2 separate regions of the Homo sapiens genome follow, and region 1 is linked to region 2. Evidence: fine-mapped expression QTL. A gene starts in region 2. The other region holds a variant in brackets. All regions are shown on one strand. Distances are between the middles of the regions.

Region 1 (5,378 bases), 46 kb after region 2:
CAATCTGTGGGAGTTTAGTGAGACTCAAAGCAGGTACAAGGTGTTAAATTAAATTTGACCTAAAGCTGTATCTGTACATAGCAAACTCCAGTGTAACTTAGTAAGTAAACAAATTGTAACCTAACTTAAGGAGTGTATTCTTATAACAAATAACTAAGTCTTAGCCAATCACAGCAGCTAAACTTCAGCCAATCACAGGCTGCCGGCTGATCAGACCATGTCCATATAACGCGATGCAGAGCTGTAAGCAATCGATCTACTGTTTCTGTACATCACTTTCTTTCTCTGTCTGTAGATACTGCCTGCCTGCACTGCTGGGTGGAGCTCTCTGAACCCCTCCTGGTTCAGACTGCTGCTCAATTCATGAATTGTTCTTTGCTTAAATAAACACTGCCAAATTTAATTTGTCTCCTTTTTTTTGTTTTAACAAAAGTAAGGGTGTTATGCCTATGCCTGAGTCAGCAGGGGCTGTCACAGGCTAAGAGCCCGTGCTTTTTGTCTGAATCAGAATTTGCTTTGAACATAGAAATAAAGCCAGAAACACAAATGATCAAGGAATCCTATCATCTGCTCTTACTCCTGTTCCTTTTCTGTATTAGCCAACCACTAACACTGAAAATGACATAGGAGAGGGAAAGATACTGCAACCAATAGTACCTTTTCCTTTACCCCTTCCTTCCTTGTCAGTAAGCTGAAAGTAGAATGTTAGTTCTCTGATTTGTATTAGGAAGTGAGCTGAAATTAGTTGAGTTAGTTTGGTGCAGCAGTTCCACTGTTCTGTTAAGAATGAACTGGCCAGGCACGGTGGCTCACGCCTGTAATCCCAGCACTTTGGGAGGCCAAGGCGGGCAGATCACGAGGTCAGGAGATAGAGACCATCCTGGCTAACATGGTGAAACCCCGTCTCTACTAAAAATACAAAAAAACTAGCTGGGCGTGATGGTGGGCGCTTGTAGTCCCAGCTACTCAGGAGGCTGAGGCAGGAGAATGGCGTGAACCTGGGAGGTGGAGCTTGCAGTGAGCCGAGATTGCGCCACTGCACTCCAGCCTAGGTGACAGAGCAGGACTTTGTCTAAAAAAAAAAAAAAAAAAAAAAATGAACTACAGGCTGGGTTCAGTGGTTCACACCTACAATATCAGCACTTTGGGAGGCTGAAGTGGGAGGATCGCTTGAAGCCAGGAGTTCGAGACCAGCCTGGGGAACGAAGCAAGACCCTGATTGTACAAAACAAAACAAAACAAAACAAAACTGGCTCAGTGCAGTGGTGGGTGCCTGTAGTTCCAGCTGCTTAGTAGGCTGAGGCAGGAGGATCGTTTGAGCCCAGGAGTCTGAGACTGCAGTGAGACAAAATTGTGCCACTGCACTCCAGTCTGAGCAACAGAGTGAGACCTTGTCTCTTAAAAAGAATTAACTACATGTGCATGTACCAACTCTGAAATAGGAAGTGTGTAAGATGCTCTTATCTTTGCATTTAAACCTGGCATTGCACAATATAAAAATGAACAGAACAGTTCATTCTAATCATTTAAAAATTTACCTTTACTGAGAACAACAATAAATAGCAATTTTTTGATCATATTATTTGTTAAAAAATATTTGAGACAGGATCCTGCTATGTTGCCCAGGCTGGTCTTGAACTCCTGGGCTGAAGCGATCCTCCTGCCTTGGCCTCCCAAAGTGTTGGGATTACAGGCATTAGCCACCATGCTCAGCCTAAATAGCAAATAAAATCACTATGATAAATCAAGAGAGAGACTTTTGGAGAAAGAAAAAAGCTTTATATTTTAGTAACTTTAACTGCATTTTCCCCCTGCTTTTTGAACAAGGTTCCCCACCATTGGGCCCCACAAATTATGTAGCTTGTTCTGGATCTCATAGCTATGGCTGAATAATTCAATCCAGCCTGTCAAATTCTGGGGCCATGTTTCAAAAATAATTTCTTAAGTATAAGAAGCCTCAACTTACTAACAGATTGTGTTCCAGCTTGTTTTATAAGTCAGCAGCTTGGATTTTGGCACGTGTTTTCTCATAGGAACACTGTTTTGAATAGTGGTCAGGTTTCCAAGCTAGCCCACAAAAGCATACTGAAGCTATAACACAGCTGATTGTCTACAGTCTATTTGCTGTTATAATAATGTAGCTGAAGACCATTTGTGTGGTTTGCCAAATACTGCACTGTGGGGTTGCACTTAACAGTTGGGTGGGGTCAGGGGAATTCTGGTTGGTTCTGGCCAAAGAGCTGTGAATAGTGGCAGGTGCCACTCTGGGCCAGGGCCAGAGCATTTAGTGGGTGTTGTGAGACCCTCCAGGGTGCTCTGTTCTCCTGCCACAGTCACTGGTAATCTTCTGGGAATGACACAGAGCAGAATCCTGGTGGACTGTGATAGGCATGTTGCATGAGCAGGAAATCCGCCATTGTGTTTTAAGCCACTGAAATTTGGAGTTGTTACCAGTGCAAAAGATACACAGTCCAATTTTAGAAATAGTCCAATGTGAAAAGCTATAATGTCTTTGGATGAAACTGATAAAGGAATGGGAAGTATCTACCCTCTCCTCAGATGTTTAGACAGAAGGGATGCAGAGAGATGGGACAGTAGCTAGAGAGGGACAAAGGTCAAAGAGGAGTTTATTTGCTGATGCCTTTCTTATATTTTTAAGATAGGAGATGCGTAAGTGTGTTTATATGAGAGTCAAGAGAGACAGAGCTAGAGAAAGAGAGGTTAGGTACAATCAGTCTACATCTGCAGGAACCGAAGACTTAAGGGGGTTAACTAACTTGTGCAAATTCTTATGTCCTCACTTTACAGATGAAGGAACCAAGGCCTTAACAAGGTCAAGTCACTCATGCAAGTTTACATGGTTTATAACTGGTTGAACCATGTCTTAAACCCATATTGGTCTGACCCCGAAGCCCACATTCCTGACTGCTAGGCTGCCTCACCTCCTAGTTTTTGG[GTGAGT/G]TGAGTTAACACAGGAGCAGAGAGCTCGCGGCCCCACAGTTAGCCTGAGAGTCAGGGGCCTTGCTATTCCTGGTGAAAGTTCTGTCTACACAAGGCGCTGCTTCCTCATTAAAATTTATGCTGCCAATTCTAAGAATTTTATATAGAGTTTTCAGCCTTTTTCCTGTGAAAATTTTCCCTTAGGAAATCAGATGATATCGAACATCCTTCCACCATTGAAACTGGGTCATTCTAAGGAAATGTAGAATCTCAGGAAAGATTCTAAGGAAATAGAAACTCAGAATTTTAACACTAATGATATCCCTGCCATGTAATAAAAGAAAAACAAAGAGAGCAAGACTCGGTGACTTGCTTGGGGTTCAAGAGTGTATTTAAGAACATTTCCAAGAGGTCAAACAAGCAAGAGGGAAACGCCAGCGATGCTGGGAGGTACCCAAGTGTAGCCGCTGGGATAACATGGGTTATGGTTGCGGCCAGGAGGCCTCTGGAGTGTGACACCAAAATAAGGCTGCAGCCGGGAAGTTGTATCCTGGCTTCTCCCCCAAAGGATGGTGGTTTGCATCCCATTCCCGCCAACTGGCTGATGGCAGGTGATAGCCGAGTCACATGGAGGGGGCCCAGCCGTCCGGGGGTTACCACTTCCTCCTCGCCCACAACAAAGGCCCTCTGCCAAGTGGATGTGTCTATAAATGCCTCCACCTTCAGCTTTCGGGGAACCGTGGACTATGCCTTCTGAAATGACTCTTCAAAGCTGGAGGGAGCATTTCTTCCTCAGCACTCTGGCAGACAATGGGGAGGATAGGACAGTGACACTCACATGAAAGCACGAAGTTGGGATGAAGGAGATGAAGCAATTCAACAGTGGCAGATCTCGTGATAGTGGCAGCTTGGAAATAAAACAAGCCCCCGGTCACATGGTGTCTCGTACCGCCAGCTTCATGGTGTGACTGCTTTGCAAAGGGAAGTTGGCTCGGGCCACTGACAAAGAACATCTAACCCCAGCAAGGCATTGCAATGGGAGCCAGAGATGCAGCTTGATGGCTTGTTTGTGGCTTGGGGATCTACAGTGGCAGTATTTTGATGTGTCCTGTTTTCTGTCCAGGCAGGGAACAGGGAATAAGTGTGTTTTAATAAAGCTTGGCCTCTGTATACCTGTGACCTTGGCCTGGCTTGGCTTATCTGCTTATCCCATGTGCACCTCACTGAGTTATTTGTTTAGACAGCATCTTGAATGACTGTTTTGTTTTGTTTTGTTTTGTTTTTTTGACAGGGTCTTACTTTGTCATCCAGGCTGGAGTGCAGTGGCATGATCTCACCTCACCTCACTGCAGCCGTGACCTACCAGACTCAAGTGATCCTCCTGCCTCTGCCTACCAAGTAGCTGGGACTACAGGCACACACCACTGTGCCTGGTGAATTTTTGTCTTTTTTCAGAGATGTGGTTTTGCCATGTTGCCCAGGCTGGTCTCAAACTCCTGAAGTCAAGCAATCCACCTGCCTCAGCCTCCCAAATTGCTGAGATTACAGGTGTGAGCCACCTCGCCTGGCCTGAATGACTACATTTTAACTTAAATTTAGAATCTTAATTATTACCTAATATCTTCAAAAAGGTCACACAATGATGTAGCATTGAAATTTCAGAAGATGGCTTGCACACACCAGGCAGTGGAACTGATGGCAGTAAAGATGGCCAAATCTCTCAGGACAGATCCCGGAATTTCCAAAATTCAGAAAGTTAGAGTAATGGACAGTTTGTCAAAAACTTCCTGTTGACTTTCAGGAGAAGTCATGTAATTTCCGTAATGTGAAATCCCACTAAAGAAAGAAGAAACTTCAAGGGGAACTAGAAAATGCAGGCAAACTTAGGATTCTTGTGCAGGCCTTGAACTCATATTTTGAAGTATTTTAGAGGTCAAGGGCACAAGTCCTGGTTATGGAAAGCAGTGTGCCACCGAGGATGTTTTGCAAAGCTACTGATGATCCAGTATTATTCCCAAGGATCTCCAGATGCAGAATACAAAGCAGGCTAAGACTTAAATGTTGATTATGATACTAAAGAAGAAAGTGATGTATTAGTGTTTTGATAAATGTATGCTATTGACAGTTGAGTACAGAGGATTTTTAGAGCCATAAAACTACTCTGTATGATACAATAACGGTGGATGATACATGTCGTTATAAATTTGCCCAAACCCGTAGAAAGTACACCAACAAGAATGAACCCTAATGTAAACTAGGTAATTATGATGTGTCAATGTAGGTTCATCAATTGTAACAACTGTAACACTCTGGGGCAGAGCGGGGAGTGTTAATAATGGGAAGGCTGTGTGTGTTTGGGGCAGGGAATAGATGGGAAATCTCTGTATCTTCCTCTTAATTTTGCTGTGAATCTAAAATGCTTTAAAACATAAAGCCTT
Region 2 (5,376 bases):
TTTTACGGTTGAGATGTGAGGCTCAAAGAGCTGTCTTATCACTTGACTTGAACAGGGTACCACAATTACAGGTTCGGGTAGGAGTGAATCTTACTTCCTTTCAGTGACTTTTGAGTTCCCTGCTTTGTTCCAGATTGGTCAGTGCTATCCAATAGAACTTCTGCAATGATGGAAATGTTTTATATGTGCACTGTCCAATAGTCATGTGGCTATTAAGCACTTGAAATGTGGTCAGTGTGACTGAGAAACTAAATTTTTAATTTAAATAAATTTACATTTAATTAAGACATGTGGTTAGTGGCTACTGTATTTGTTAGCACAGATCTAAATCAACGGTCTCCAAACTGGGGTGCACGCAGCCCAGGGAGGGCATAGACTATGAAGAGTACAGAAAGAAAACATACATATATATATTTAAAATCATTATTTCTGATTTTTTTGTGTGTGTATGTTGTTTTTTAATGTACCTAACATACTAGGTATATTATAATAGGTGTATGTGTGTATATAAATACACACTATATATATCATACATATAATTCTGTGTGTATGTGTGACTGGGTCTTGCTATGCTGCCCAGGCTGGATTCAAACTCCTGGCCTCAAGTGATCCTCCAGCCTCAGCCTCCTGAGTAGCTGGGTATATTACATATGTAACAACTTTTATTTCACACTTACGTAGCACTATATAAATGTGTATATTATGTATGTAATAATTTTATTTCACACTTGTAAAGCACTGTGTGCCAGGTATATGCTTTACATATATTAATTCATTTCATCTGCATAATGACTCTGTGATATACTTTTATTATCTCCATTTTACAAGTGAAAAAACCAAAGTTATCTTTGGATGTGCCAAGGTTGTTAGAGACAAAGCCAATGTTTGATTACAGTCATTCTGGCTTCTATCTATGCACTTTACTTAAGCTAAATAAGTACATGGGAAGTGAGGAGGGCAAACATTTTTACTAATGTGAGTGACCAAAAATATTTGATAACTAATGCTCTAGGCTTGACCTTAGACAACCAGTCAGACATAGCAATTCCTACTTTCAAAATTTAAAAGGATTTTAGGCATTATTTAGTCCTGCCTTTTCCCCACTGATAGATATTGCTGTGCACGTAGAGGTGAATGAGGTAGAGTGATGGTACGGACAAGCGTCCTGGTGACATCTGTACTCATCTAGAGACAACTCTAACACACGAAAGATTGTGTGTGTGTGATCATACAATTTTCCCCATTTAAAAAAAGTTCATCTTTGCCAATTTTGTTCTAATTATTAATTTAAAAAAAGACTTGTTTGTTTCAGAGACAAACTCTATTGAAATAGGGGAGGATAGGAGGCAACAAGCCTGGAGGAGGAAGATCCCAGGTGGAAGAGCAGGGCGGAACCCAAGTCTGCTCTCATCCCTAGGTGCTCATCCACGTGCAGCTTGGCTGGTAGTGACTCTAATTCAACAGCAATCAAACACAGGTTAAAACAACTTACTGAAGTAATAGATGAATAAGAAATATAAAATTTACCAAAACCCAATTTCCTCCTACACACCACACACACTTTGTTTAAAATAAGTATGCTGTTCTCCCTACTTCGCCCCCATCCCTAGTCTACCCTAAGCAACTTCGTTACCTCTCTACGAACCCATCAGAGCGCTTAGCTATCAGATCAATTAGGGCACATTTAACCTTATATACTATGCAATAATTACAGTTTCTAGGTATGTGAAGTAGGCTGATGGGGTTTTGTGTCGTCAAAGTTTTGGGAAGACCAGAATTCTAAAGTATGCATTTAAAAGAAAGGGCTGGGTGGAGCACGTAGGGTATGTGTGTGTCGCCGCAGTTCCCTTGGTTTCAAGAGGAGGGATTTTAGGTAAAGCAAAGGGAAAGTGTGACGGAAAGGATTGCTGTGCTAAATGGGAGCAGCAAATGCCAGTACCGATGCCTTTGGGCATTTAGATCCAAAGCCTGCCTTTCTCGTTCTTCAGTTCCCCGGGGAGGCCTGTTGTGGGTGGGGAGGTGTCTTCCTTCTATTATTCCAGTCTCCCTAAGAACTTCGTAGACAGTTGAGCAATACTTTCTAAGGGCTGGTCGGAGTCAGGAAAGTCAGGTAAGGCGCCTCACGTGCACCTCAACGCGTCGCGGGAGCGCGTCCCGACCTCACACATGGACAAGCTCCGCCCGCGGCCGGCCTGAGTGGGTGTGGCCTCCGCCAAAGGCCCCGCCCCTAGAGCGCGTCGCGAGGGGCGCGAGGGGCGGGGCGAGGGAACTGGCAAGAAAGGGCGGGGAGCGAGGGGTGTGGGTGTGCTCGTGCCCGCGCGCTCGCGCCCGGAGTGTGGACGGGGGCGCGCCCGTGCGCGCGCAGGGGAGAGGCCAGCCCAGGCAGCCGTTGTCGGGTTCGACTGGAGGGGCGGGGGAGTCACCTGCGAGCGGCTGCGCTGGCGGCCAGCCCGCCCACCGCGTCTGGATCGCGCCGGCTGCGCGGGGCTGCGGACAGCACACACCCTGGAAGGCCCCGGCGGGGAACGGGCAGAGTCCGCGCCCTGCGTCCGCGACCAGGAGGATCGGACCTTCGCCTTCGCTGTCGCCGCCGCCGCCGCCCGCGGCCGTCGGGGTAGGTGAAGCCCGGGTGGGTGGTCCGCCGGCTCCTGACGGGCCGGGAGGGGAGACGCGAAACTTTCCGGGCGCTTCCTCCCGCGGTCCCGGAGCCGTCGCAGCGCCGGGAGGTGTCGTCGTCGCGGGCGGTGGCGGCCGACGCCATGTTGGGGTCTGTGAGAAACGGGGCGCTCCCGGCCGCTCCCCTCGCGCCGGGGCCGGCCCGCGGGCCAGTTGCCGCCGCCGTCCCGCCAGCCCGGGAGCGAGCCGCGCCCGCCCGTAGGACGCCGCCGCCGCCGCGGGGGGACGGGGGCCGCCGGGTAGGGTCCGGTCCACGGGTCTGCGGGGCGGGGGCCGGCGGACGCGGGAAGGAGCCCCGAGGCCGGGCGAGAAGTTGTGGGGCCTGAGGACGGGGGTCCTGGACACGGCCGGGGGCGTCTCAGGGTCGCGACAAATTTCTGGCCGAAAAGTTTGCAGGGTCTGCGTGTCGGGGACCTTATGACCTGAACTACATATTTGTATGTCACTTGGGAGACGAAAATGGCCCCGCAGAACTTGCTCTGATAGAAGCGATGGTTTATTTATTTGGAGCCTTTTCAAGTTTTATGATCCTTTGACGAATTTATTTTTCTTTTTAAAAATGTGATTGAAGGCCGAGAGCGCGCTGCCGGTGTTGCTTGAATAGCCTTGTGTGCTCTCCGTACATTCCAGCAATAACTTGAGTGTGCGGTGGAAGTGGGTATGAAGGTTACAGACACCTAAGCCCTCCTCGGTAATTCATAGACTCACAAAACGCGTTGTTGATAAATGCCTTCTTTGTCGTGTTGTGTAGTACGTTGCTGAAGAGACTCATTAAAGAAAGATTTAGACAGAAACTTTGAGAGTCTTAAAGGCATGTGTTCTCTTAAGAATAAGAAGTGATCTTGACAGTTTGAAGTTTTTTTCCCCTCCCTTTAGTTTCTTAAGGGTGAATGCCTACCGCGTTTTGAGCATTTACTTTTTTTAAATACTCTGGCAGCTCGTGGGGTCTTCACGTTAATTCAGTATTAACGAAGGCTTCATTATAATCTCTTTGGGTCCCGACCACACGGGGAATGAATGGTATTAAGCTATTTATTTGGAAAGCACACGTAATCGGCCTCTAAATAAAACTAGTATAGTGACTAAGCTTCAGAAGAAAATATTCAGCCTCAGTAAATGAATCTAAATGATTTTTAAATAAAGACATCTTGCTTTAAAATTCTGTTAAATGAACTGAAAAGGCTCTTAAACACAAATACAGTAAGCCCTAAAACCCCAAATTCTTGGAGAATTTTACTTTTTAGATCTAAAAATACAGCTTCTGCTCATATTTGATTGTCAATTTCTTTTTCCTTTTTTCTCTTTTTCCTTCCTTCCTTTTCCTTTTCCTAGACAGGGTCTCTGTCTGTCGCCCAGGCTGGAGTGCAGTGGTGTCATCTCCGCTCACTGCAGCCTCAAACTCCCGGGGCCCAGGTGATCCACCTCGGCCTCCTGAGTAGTTAGGACTACAGGAGCGCATCACCACACCTGGCTAATTTTTGTTTGAATTTTGTGGAGAGAAGGTTTTGCCATGTTGCTCAGGCTGTATTGCCAATTTCTGTTGTTCTTAAAAATTCTTTTAGTTTTGCTTCATTGTCAAGTAAATGGCATTATAACATTTTTTATTTAGAAATGAAATTAACTAATTTCACAAATGTAGCAGCCAAACTGGTATTTAACTGAGATCTTATGACTCTGAAGCCTTTTCATTTTTCCTGTAGCATAACTTTGTAGGATACATAACTCAGTCTTCTGGAGCAATCTGTCCATCTCGTTTGCTCTTATCACTGCTCTGACTTGAATTTAGTTCTTCAGTATAAATACTTATTTCCCAGCGAGCTGATTTACAGGTGATCCTTGTGATGAAATTTTTTCCTTAAAAATACTTAAGCCTATACTCTTTGAAGCCTTTTCTGCTCTGTTCTCTCATTCCACTCCCTTGCCCTCTCCAGAAATCAATTAATTTCTCCCATGGTATTACTGTAAATATCGCATAGATTCTGTCATGACATCTCCTTGACAGCAGGCAACACATCGGGTCTGATTTGCCTCTTCATTCCCTGCATGCCAAGAACATAGCAGATGCTCAGGAAAGGTTTGAATGGATGAGTACACGTATGTTTGTTCCTTGTAAATATGCTTCATGAATTTCTTTTGAAATTGTAAATTCCATGAGCATCATAGTTAAATCTTCTTTGTAGTCTTTTTCCCAATACATGCCATCAACTCCATTAAATCCACAGATTGGTTTTTATTATATATACACACACACACACACACACACACACACACACACACACACATGTTTTGTTGTTGTTTTGTTGAGAATTTAACTTAGTACCTGAGTGAATTTTCGCCTGGGGGTACAGAACTTGAATATTTATGAAATTTCTAAGTAGATAATGGATTAAAGTATAATTACTGATGTATGAGAGAGAAGCCATGGATCATCAAAAGGATTATAATCATAATTTTAAGTGTGATTGAATGTATTTGAACTTGATGGAAATATTGTTAATGCTTGAAAAATTTAAAGGTCATATTTATACATTTAAGCTCTTGGAACAAATCTCATTATAGCTCTATCAATTATTGTTTTGCCGGAATTGTCTTAGAATTTTTAGAATGCCCTGCTTAATAGAAAGTATATGAAAAATTTTTTTGTTGTTGTTTATCTTTGATGAACCAGCTTTGTACATGAGCTGCCTGCTTAATATTTAA

Which allele goes with the higher level. Alleles are on the strand shown, and positions count from the first base shown. SD is a standard deviation of normalised expression in the study named.
For the expression in monocytes after Pam3CSK4 of the gene that starts at base 2,369 in region 2, GTGAGT is the high allele of the variant in region 1 and G is the other (moderate effect, 0.50 SD a copy in Quach 2016).

What was found. PIP is the estimated chance that this variant, and not a neighbour inherited with it, causes the effect.
Region 1: its variant is the best candidate, but not a certain one, in a credible set for the expression of PLEKHF2 in monocytes after Pam3CSK4 (Quach 2016, PIP 0.76).

The regions. Positions count from the first base shown.
Region 1 is chr8:95,177,781-95,183,158 of GRCh38, forward strand. LOC124901982 (a long non-coding RNA gene) reads left to right here. Exons shown (of 2, transcript XR_007061015.1): 2 at 4,232-5,378. Among named protein-coding and RNA genes, the nearest start is that of LINC01298, 36 kb to the right of the region's middle. RefSeq lists an enhancer at 3,553-3,652. The variant GTGAGT/G (reference allele first, on the strand shown) is at 2,957.
Region 2 is chr8:95,131,417-95,136,792 of GRCh38, forward strand. It overlaps PLEKHF2 (pleckstrin homology and FYVE domain containing 2), which reads left to right and starts at 2,369. Exons shown (of 2, transcript NM_024613.4): 1 at 2,369-2,614. RefSeq lists silencers at 2,111-2,750, 2,771-2,930.